3 linked regions of the Homo sapiens genome follow. The protein of the gene in region 1 interacts with the protein of each later gene in a biochemical or structural test. Each region holds a gene or a part of one and is shown in the gene's direction. Other genes may lie near its edges. The genes, in order: NMI, TRIP12 and STAT5A.

What was found.
Region 2: the proteins of NMI (region 1) and TRIP12 form a complex in vitro, tested with the Homo sapiens proteins (one study listed by BioGRID).
Region 3: the proteins of NMI (region 1) and STAT5A form a complex in vitro, tested with the Homo sapiens proteins (one study listed by BioGRID).

Annotation. Positions count from the first base shown.
Region 1 is NC_000002.12:151,283,169-151,286,823, reverse strand, and holds part of NMI (N-myc-interactor), read left to right. Parts: intron 1-2,533; exon of another isoform or gene 2,534-3,525; coding exon of another isoform or gene 3,526-3,655. UniProt on the Homo sapiens protein: Acts as a signaling pathway regulator involved in innate immune system response.
Region 2 is NC_000002.12:229,859,362-229,863,016, reverse strand, and holds part of TRIP12 (E3 ubiquitin-protein ligase TRIP12), read left to right. Parts: intron 1-2,485; coding exon 2,486-2,611; intron 2,612-3,442; coding exon 3,443-3,655. UniProt on the Homo sapiens protein: E3 ubiquitin-protein ligase involved in ubiquitin fusion degradation (UFD) pathway and regulation of DNA repair.
Region 3 is NC_000017.11:42,294,964-42,298,618, forward strand, and holds part of STAT5A (signal transducer and activator of transcription 5A), read left to right. Parts: intron 1-655; coding exon 656-830; intron 831-3,655. UniProt on the Homo sapiens protein: Carries out a dual function: signal transduction and activation of transcription. Mediates cellular responses to the cytokine KITLG/SCF and other growth factors. Mediates cellular responses to ERBB4.

The DNA of each region.
Region 1 (3,655 bases):
TGTGGAAGTGTGGATGATTATAGGGGGTTAGTAAATGATTTTTAAAGGAATTCAAGGGACTCGAAGAACATACAATGGCCTTGGACAAAGCCTGTTGGGCTTGCAGAACAGACAGTGGTTGTAACCCAGGTTTGTTGACAGACTTCAGTCTTCTTTCTGTGATATGAATTCAGAATTAAAAACTCAGGGAAGGGACTAGAGGTAATTGTTCTGTTTTCTGGCAGGTCCCACATTTAGGCAGATAGGAGAACATCAGTGCACCTTCATCCTGTGCTTTGGGAGAGACAGAGGAGGAGGAGGGGGAGGTCAGAGAGACCTTGAGCCATCTTCAGTTCACCATGTCAAAATGCCATACTTCCGGGTATCAGTTTCTGAGCCCCAGTGATAGCAAAAGGATCCAGTTGAGGATCATGCTTTCTACTTAGTTGTGAGGTCTCTTTAGTCTCCTTCAGTATGGACATTTCTTAGTCTTTCCTTGGCCTTCTGAACTTGAAACTTTTGAAGAGAACAGGGCAGTTGTATTGTAGAACCCCTCAATTTGAGTTTGTCTGATGTTTCCTCATGCTTAGATTCAGATTATGCATCTTTGGCAGGACTGTCGTCGAAGTTACATTGTGTTCTCAGTGCACCTTGTAATATGTTACATTATTTTGATTTATTCCATTATTTACTTTGATTATCTCATTATGTTGATGTCTGCCAGACTTCTCCAGTATAAAGTTACTCTTTTCTTCTTTGAAATTAATAAACATTTTGTGGGGAACTATTTTGAAGCTAACTAAAAATTCCTTTCTTCATCAAAATTTCTAATTTATCTGGACTCAGTTTTTTACTTTAATCAACAGATTTAATCATTACTACCATTATGTATTTTAATCTTTAATTTATCCCCAGATTTGGCCACCGAAAACCATCTCAAGGTGGATTCTGTGTCGTTTCAACATGTCATCATCATTCTTTAAGCATTTCCTTGCTTTTTGGCATCATAAGATGTCCCAGGCTCATCTTGCAGTTTTTCTATCCTGGTTTTGGGATCAACCATTTCTCTAAAGAGTCCTGGTTCCTTTTGGTGGAGAATAGTATTAGAAACCAAAGTCTGGGTGCTGAGTGTGCTCATTGCTCATTGTGGTTGTATCTGCTCTCCCAGGCCTTCTCAGCAGACAGAGCTAGGGTATATATGTATTTGTATATACACAAGATACACACATAGGCATTGCTTTTTTTTTTTTTTTTTCTGAGATGGAGTCTCACTCTGTCGCTCAGGCTGGAGTGCTGTGACGCAGTCTTGACTCACTGCAACCTCTGCCTCCCGGCTTCAAGCGATTCTCCTGCCTCAGCCTCCCGAGTAGCTAGGATTACAGGTGCATGCCACCATGCCTGGGTAATCACACATAGGTATTTCTATCTGTCTGTCTATTTATCTATCTATCTATCTATCTATCTATCTATCTATCTATCTATCTATCTCAATCATCAATCAGAAACCACAGCTGCAGGATTACATTGAAATCTAGTTCCAATCAACAGTATTTATTCTTGTTTTCTCCATTTCCATATTTATAATTATCTTCTCTGACGGTGAAAAACTTGGCTCCTATTATCCTCCATATATTTACTTACTTGATCAATTCTGTGTATGTACTTTTGGCCACTGGAGCCCTTTCAGTTGGGTCCCCATGTCCCTTTCACATACTCCCATCATATTGTATGTGTTTGTGCATGTGTTTTAGTGCTTTTTACTTTTCTGGCACTACAAGATATTCCAGGCTTATTTTGTATATTTTATACCCCAGACCTAGAATCAGCCATTGCTCCAATGAGCCCTGGTTTCTTTTATTGAAGAATATTATTAGAAACCAAGATCTGGGTGTTATGCGACTCTCCTCTTTTTTTGACACTCCTGTGTTCATTAAACTAAGACATAGCTAAGTTTTTGCTAGTCTTCTATTTTATTTTTAAGGAGGAATAGATGTCTTTTATTTCTTTTTCAAGAATATTGAGAATTTAGCCACTTGAAATCTTGGAAAATTATATGGCAGACTGTTTATTAATGTGTATCTAAAAACATAGAATCATGATATCCTTTGTCCCATTTTTGATCTGAGAGTTTTTCATCTCAGTAAATTCATATGTAGGCAAGAGTTCTTAAATTTTGTGTACCATGGATTCCTTTGCCAGCTTGGCAAATCCTATGGGCCTTTCTCCAAAAAAAAAACATTTAGTCAATGCCTGTGGGGACAGGCATGGTGGCTTATCCCAGCACTTTGGGAGTCCAAGGGGGGCGGATTGTTTGAGCCCAGGAGTTCGAGACAGTCTAGGCAACTTGGCGAAAACACATCTCTACAAAAAATACAAAAATTAGCTGGGCATGGTGGCACATACCTGTAGTCCCAACTACTTGGGGGGCTGAGGTGGGAGGATCACTTGAGTCAGGGATGTTGAGGCTGCAGTGAGCCGTGTTCATGCCCCACTGCACTCCAGCCTGGGCAACAAAGTGAGACCCTATCTAAAAAAAAAATTAAATGCATAAAATAAAATACATAGAATTACAAAGTAAATCAATTGTATTGAAATATGACTGGGATTATAGGCACCTGGCACCACGCCCAGCTAATTTTTTTTGTATTTTTAGTAGAGACGGGGTTTCACCATGTTGGCCAGGCTGGTCTCAAACTCTTAACCTTGTGATCCACCCGCCTTGGCCTCCCAAAGTGCTGGGATTACAGACATGAGCCACCGCGCCCGGCCAGAAATCAATTGTATTGAAATATGGTTATCAGAATATTTAAAAAGCAAATGTTTGATATAGTGATATATATCAATGTATTACAATATATTACAAGACCTAGTGGTGAGGTTAGTAACTAATGTAGAAGCAATGTTAAACACAAACTATTTTAGCATATCTGCAACAATATTCTATGAAACTATCTGTGCTTTCTATTGGTGACTATCACAGGTGCTGTGAATACTACTGTAGTTTGTTACCATATTCATAATTGAAGAGAATGCTAAGCTTCAATTAGAGGTTATTAGAAATAAACATATAATTTCTTCCCAATCCATGTTTATGGACCCAGCAGGAGAGTTAGTGAAAGCTTCAGGTAAGAACACCTGCGTAGAGAAAGCATATGTTGGAGGCCTCTTGACTTTGTTTACATTTGGGGAGAACAATAGGGAGAATTAAATATTTTAATCAAAAACTTTGAAAAACGTTGGAAAACCAAAATAGTATTCATTTAAAATGGAGCATGATATTATGGTTGGAATGTGAACTACAAAGGAACATTAATGTTCATTACTTTCTATATATTATTTTGTTGAAAAGCAAAGGATTTTTAGAATCTTTTTATATATTATAGGTGTGAAAGTTATTTGAAATATTGGCCAGGTGCTGTGGCTCACGCCTGTAATCCCAGCACTTTGGGAGGCCGAGGGGGGTGCATCACTTGACAAGAGTTCAAGACCAGCCTGACCGACATGGTGAAACCCCATCTCTACTAAAAATACAAAAATTAGCCGGGCATGGTGGCAGGTACCTGTAATCCCAACTACTTGGGAGGCTTGAGACAGGGGAATCACTTGAACCTGGGAGGCAGAGGTTGCAGTGAGCCAAGATCGCACCATTGCCCTCCAGCCTGGGCGACAGAGAGAG
Region 2 (3,655 bases), about 79 Mb from region 1:
ACCTCATGACACATCCGCCTCTGTCTCCCAAAGTGCTGGGATTACAGGCATGAGCCACCGTGCCCTGCTGGGCATTGCTGAATTTAAGCCAGTTTTGTGAGCCTTGGTTTTCTAAATGATTTGAATACTGTTTACTTTTTGTGGTATAATATAGAGAGTTTACATGCTAAGTTCTTAAGTTCATTGAAGGTATTAGTAAGGGCATGAGAAATAACACAGGAGTAGAATTAGGTGGATCTAACATAAGCTATATAAAAGTCAACAGAACAATTTATTTGAGTTAAAAAGAGGAGGGCTGCTGCCCCAGACCTCACCTTTAGTTTCATATGGGCCGGTTTCTGATGACAAATGGAATGAATCATAATTTTTAATTGTTTTGGGCATTTATTTTTCACAAAGTTGTCTAGCTTTGAATGTATGTAGTTTTCTTTCAGAATGAGTTGTTTAATTATCAAGGAATGCAACAAGCTATATTTTAAATTTTAAAATGAAATAAAGTAGAAAACGTGATTTAATTAAAACATCAGTCTGCAACGATCTTTAAGAAAATAAGAATGTAGAGGACCTGAATGACATAATTTATATTTCCTGTAGCTGTTAAATTCCACACCCCAAAAACAGAACGTTACACCTCTTTTTTAGAATAACTATGGAATGATTTGAAAAATAGTCTCATTTCTGAAGAAAAAAGAGTTGAACTCTGAGATCTGTTAGTAGAAATATAACAAAAACAAAAGCAACTCTTAGAAATTAAATCTCTAATAAACTCATTGGTTAAAGCAAAATTTTAGTCTGCAATGGGAGAATATCTAGGAAAAATTAAAATTAAATCACAATATATACAAGGCAGGAAAATCACATGATCCTGGGAGGCGGAGGTTGCAGTGAGCCGAGATAGTGTCGCTGCACTCCAGCCTGGGCGATAGAGCAAAACCCTGTCTGAAACACCAAAAAATAAAAAATAACAACAACAACAACAAAAACACAATGTATAAAAAATCTTACAAAGTTCAGCTTAGCTACAACTTTAGAAAATATGCTTCTTGAAGTATATGTGTCCTTTCATTACTAAAAGTGAAGACTAATAACACTTGAAAGGCTCACCTAGAGTTTTGTTTTTTTGTTATTTTTTTTTAAGAAATTCATCTATTCTAATAAGTCTTTAGAACATATTATTACTTTCAGATTAGAACCTTAAAAACAAAAATGATATGAGGGATCCAGGAACTATTTCCTTTCTTAAGAAGCTAATTTCTTACCTTCTTTTAAGACTCTTTTCATGAATTCTGGAAAGATGGAAGAAGAAGTGATACAGAAAAGAGAAACCTTAGGTCCTCTTTTGGAACAGATGGTTGTACTTGTATGATATCTTAAGAAATTTATGGCATCCTTACAGATTGAGTTAGAATTATTTTGTGAGATTTTCAGTGACTCATTTCTAAGTTCTTTTGAGATGGTGTTTGGAATAAAAGCCTTAAACTTTTTTTTAACAAGTAAATTTGGTATTAATGAAACTTTTTTCTAGATTTTCATTGGTATATGCTCTTATGTGGAAAGTGGATATCAGCTATGAATTACATAAATTGCATTTGTTACATTAATATCTCACCCGAATGGCAGCAGTTTTCTGGATATCAACATGTGTTTGTTTTTTATTGCTTATGTAAATCTCATGTAACCATTCCCCAAGGTCTAAAAAATAATCTAACTGAAAACAGTTTTTTCATGTTCCTCAAACTTGCTTTTAGAATAGTGCTGGCATAAGGATTTGATTTATTGTAAATATGATGCACCATATCAATCATGGAATTATTTGAATGTTTTTTGGAACTTTTGTGGTAAATTCCATATTTCTCCAGGACTTTTTTGTGTTCTTTCTGTTGACAAGTACTTTAAAGTTTTAGCAAGTATCACTATGTTGATTTCATGTAGGTTTATTTATTGTTTAGTGCTTGAAATGATTTTCTGTGTAAAATCAGTTTGAGAATTGGTTCGTCTGTCTCTGCATTTGCTGTGTTTACCTGAATTTTAAGTACAAATTGGAAATCGGTATCAGTGTGGGAATCATCAATTGTCTTTTCCGTAAACTTTTAAAGCCATTACAGTCACATTATGTATTAAAAGTGTGTTTAGATCTAAAGTCTAAATTTGCTTTTTGTTAAAATGTAGCATATTTGAATATCTGCACTAAAATTGCTGAAAAATGTGTTACTGCTTAAGCAACCTTAACAACGCTGTGCAATTATGACTACTGGTGATAATAAACTCTTCGGTATTGCGGGGCGGGGGTGGTTCTGAGAGGCAATTTCTTTTTGCCAGATTATTTAGTAGAATAATAATTAAAATTTATAAATATTTGGAAAAAGGGTAGGGTCAACAATGAATTGTGGGAAGCTTTAAGAAATATATAAAAATATTTCATTTTCAGTATTGTATTTGCATCTCAGTTTCCTGATAGATTTCTGTTTTGATTTTCTGCTGACAGGTCACATTTAGGGCAGGCAAAACATAAGGGATATAGCCCTCCTGAGAGTAGAAAATCTAATTCTAAGGCACCCAAAGTGCAGTCTAATACTACTTCTGAACTGTCAAGGGGACACCTTTCTAAAAGGTAAATCTTCATGTTGCTTATACATTTTCAAGGCAGAATTATTTGCATTCAAATCATTGCATAATGTTAAAACTTGAGGTTATTCCAAAACGTTTTGATACATATTTTCATTATTCTCTAAGTAACTTTTAGGATTGACAGTTTATCACCTTTGCAGTGATTAGTGCAGTATACCCTAGACAGTGAGTTTGTCAATGATAAAATGATATTTTTGTTTGGAGAGCCGTAAGATTCCCCCTTTGCTTAACAAACCATTATGGCCATTTTTTATTTCTTTTTATTTTTTAATCTTTTTTTTAGTTTTTATTGTCAGAGCCATAGTTTAGGTTTAAGTCAGTGATTCTTAAGATTTAATTGTTAAGAGACTTTGGAAAGCAATGTTAACTTTGAAGATTTGATAGTACTACAATATAAAAATCTCTAACCTTCATTTTGAAAGTGCGTATGTTAATGCTTATTTCTTCTAAGCTTTGACAAAGCAGTTGTGCTTGTGAATAGGGCATCAATATTCTGGCTTCCTCTGGTTCCGAACAATTAAGTGTTGTTTTTCTTGTAATCTTAATTCTTGTTTTGTGATTACGAGTGTTAGTGTCAGTAATCTTTGGGCTAAAGAACACCCTTATCTTTTAATCAGATATTTTAGTATCCAAAGTCACATCTGCTTTTGTTTTGTTCTTTTATTTCGTTTTACAGATTTGAACCTTCTGAAAACCTATGTTTAATACTGGACTTAGTAGGAACATATTCATACTTTATTTTTTGAAAGCATTATATATGACAGTTGTAATTATGACAGGCTGATATTAACTGTTTTCTTATCTAACCTCTTAGAAGCTGCAGTTCATCATCTGCTGTGATAGTTCCACAACCAGAGGATCCAGACAGAGCCAATACTTCAGAAAGACAAAAAACGGGGCAGGTGCCTAAGAAAGACAATTCTCGAGGAGTGAAGCGCAGTGCTAGTCCAGACTACAACAGGACCAATTCTCCTAGCTCTGCAAAAAAACCAAAAGCACTTCAGCATACTGAATCTCCCTCAGAAAC
Region 3 (3,655 bases), on another chromosome or scaffold:
CTCGGCTCACTGCAACATCCCCCTCCTGGGTTCAAGCGATTCTCCTGAATGTGCTGAAGGAATGGCTGGATCCAAGGGGAGCTTGTTGATGCCTCCCCTCTAACTTCATTTCGGGGTCTCCAGGATGCCTGTGAGAGTTTCGGCCTCTTCCCTCTTCCTTCAGTCACAAGGGGGTCTTAAGTGAGATGGTGTGTGTTCACACAGCCCTGTTCCTCCCTATGTCCCTAGGATCTACTGCAGTCCATGGTATTGAGTCAGCAAATAAATGTAGAGCGAGGGGTCATCATCATTAGTGGGAAAACCCAGGTGACACCTGGGACGTGTTGAGTTCTAGTCCCTGGGAGGAAATTAGATGGACCCTGTTTGGAATACTCTAGTGGAGGGCAGCTCTGACATAGATATTTGGACTTTGAAGGTGTTACTATCTGCCGTTATCTGCCAGGTCACCTGTTTCTCCTTTCTCTTTCCCTTTTCTATCCCAATTCTGGCAAATGACTCCTTCTGATGCAAATGATCCTTCCTTCTTGCCCTAGTTTCCCTTCTTACCCTAGTTTGGGGTTTGGGGTTTGGGGTCTGTAGTATTGGTGTTTCCTAATGCCTGTGGTCTTCTCCCATCCTCTCTTCCCCGAGTTATTTCCATTCCATCTGTCTCCAGTGCAGCTCTCCGGCTGGGATCCTGGTTGACGCCATGTCCCAGAAGCACCTTCAGATCAACCAGACATTTGAGGAGCTGCGACTGGTCACGCAGGACACAGAGAATGAGCTGAAGAAACTGCAGCAGACTCAGGAGTACTTCATCATCCAGTACCAGGAGAGCCTGAGGATCCAAGGTGAGGCGCGGTGGAGGCAGTGTGCATCCGGAGGGTGGGAGTGAGGAACATTCTATGGACTCCTAGAGGGTAGAGCTGGGTCAGTGTCCATCTCCTCAGCACTTTGCCCAAAGCCTGGTAGAAGCAATGGCTCCCGGTGATTGAGCCCCTGCCGTGGGTCACACTTGGCACACATTATTTAATTCAACCCTCTCAACAAGCCTATGAAGTGAACAGTTGTGTTATCCCCCCTTTTGCAGATGGTAAAAGTGAGGTTCAAAGAGAACAAGTAACTTGGCCTAGGTTGCCTGTAAATTACAGAACTGGATCTCAACTAGAGATATATCATAAAACTCCTGTACTTTATTAACCAGTATTCTCTCCTTAATGGTATGTATTCTGTAAATATCGACACAAATAGGTAAATATGAACAGTGCTCCCTAACCAGAGGGAGGACTTGGATTGGAAGTCTTCTGGTTGAACCAGGCTGGGAGAGGTGGAACTTCCAAAGTGGGCCTTCTTGAGCCTCACGGATAGGATGTGGGCCTGGGGGAAGGGGTGACAGTAGAAAATTCTCCTGTATCCTAGGTCTGTAGTTCGCCAATGGCTCCCATGATAAAGATGTGGGGAAATTAAAAAATCAAATTAGCTTGAAAGGAACTATCCCCAGGTACAATTTGAGGAGTCATGGGACATGGCCCATCTATTAATATGTCCCATTCCAGACTGACCCCAGAAATGTAACACCTCATCTTAGTGAGAACAAGGGGTGTCAAACTGCTTTTTCCTTTACTCTTTTTAATCTGATTTCTTAAGGTAGACCTTAGGTCATTGATTTTAGACCTTTCTTCTTTTCTTTTCTTTCTTTTTCTTTTCTTTTTTTTGAGACAATCTTGCTCTGTCGCCCAGGCTGGAGCACAGTGGCATGATTTCGGCTCACTGCAGCCTCTGCTTCCCAGCTTCAAGAAATTCTTGTGCCTCAGTCTCCCGCATAGCTGGGACTACAGGTGCAGGCCACCACGCCCAGCTGATTTTTTTAGAATTCTATTGTAGCTATTTAAGCTCTCTTCCTAACCCTGCACTGTCAGTGCTTTGTGTACACTGAGACCAGCACAATGCCTGAATATTGCAGCTATTATGTAAATACTTGCAGGATAATTCTAAATGTTTGTTTGTTTGTTTGTTTATTTATTATTGCCCAGGCTGGAGTGCAGTGGCACGATCTCATCTCACTGCGACCTCTGCCTCTCAGGTTCAAACTATTCTCATGCCTCAGCCTCCTCAGTAGCTGGGACTACAGACATGCACCACCATGCCTGGCTAATTTTTTTTTTTTGTAGTTTTAGTAGATACAGGGTTGTGCCGTGTTGTCCAGGCTGGTTGCAACCTCTAGCCTCGAGTGATCTGCCTGCCTCGGCCTCCCAAAGTGCTAGGATTATAGGCGTGAGCCACGGTGCCCAGCCAATACTGACAGGATAATTCTAAGAGAATTTCCCCTCATCTGAATCTATCCCAGACTGGCCCTAGAAGAAGGGCAGCTCCTTCTGAGAATGGAAACGGAAGATTTTGGGCGGTTATTCCTACCCAAGTCCTTAGACTGTCGACAGTATTTCTGATCCCGTGCCTGGCTTTTCTGTTTCCTGTGCATGGTGGCGGATTAGGTTTGGATTCAGGTTGGGTTTGGATCTATCATGCAGTGTCTTCTCAGTCCCATTTGTCAAGTTCACTCAGCAGAAACACAGACTATTGATCTGCTTTTGCCAGGGAAGGCTCAGCTGCCTCCAGTGGAGTAGGGAAATTGCTTCCCGTCTCCCTGGCCTCCTTCCTAAAAGCTTCTGCAAATTTCCAGGAGAGCCCTAAGTGGGTCCCTTGCATAGGAAGGCTGGGCCCAGGTGTTGGGATCACCACCACCCTCCCTGTGGCTGGGCAGGATACCCGAGGTAGCCGTGCAGACACCTCGGATCTGTCCGTGCCTGGATGATCCTCTTCCTGCTCGATACCTGCAGTGAGATTGGAGCCATATTTCTGAGTTCTAGCTCTGGGCTGTTCCTGGCTACATAGAGTTGCTTTTGTCTGTCCCAGCTTGTGCATCCCATGGGTCAGGGCTGGGGTCAGAGTGACGTGGCCCTCAGGGGCCAGCCAGGAGCTCGACCAAGACATGCTGGTGCGCGCATCTTCTGACTCAGCTCAAGCAAGGACGCTGGGCTGTTGAGAAGGTGATGGGAAGGGATTAATAGTCCCAGTGTGGTGGAGACGGGCTGTCGCTGGGAGGGTGGGGTGGGCCTGCGGTGGTGGTTGTAACTGTGGACATGTTTACTTTCTTAGCCTGGGTTATTGATACACAGGCGCCCTTGTGTTCCACATCCCCTGTGTCTTACGTATTTCATAATGGATACTTTTTTTTTTTTGAGATGGAGTCTTGCTCTGTTGCCTTGGCTGGAGTGCAGTGGTGCTCTCGGCTCACTGCAACCTTTAACCCCGGGTTCAAGCAATTCTCCTGCCTCAGCCTCCTAAGTAGCTGGGATTACAGGCATGCGCCACCATGCCCAGCTAATTTTTGTATTTTTAGTAGAGACAGGGTCTTGCCATGTTGGCCAGGCTGGTCTCGAACTCTTGACCTCAAGTGATCTGCCTGTCTCAGCCTCCCAAAGTGCTGGGATTACAGGCGTAAGCCACCGAGCCTGGCACATGATGGATACTTTTTTTTTTTTTTTTTTAGACAGAGTCTAGCTCTGTCGCCCAGGCTGGAGTGCAGTGGCCCAATCTCGGCTCACTGCAAGCTCCACCTTCTGGGTTCACGCCATTCTCCTGCCTCAGCCTCCCTAGTAGCTGGAACTACAGGCAC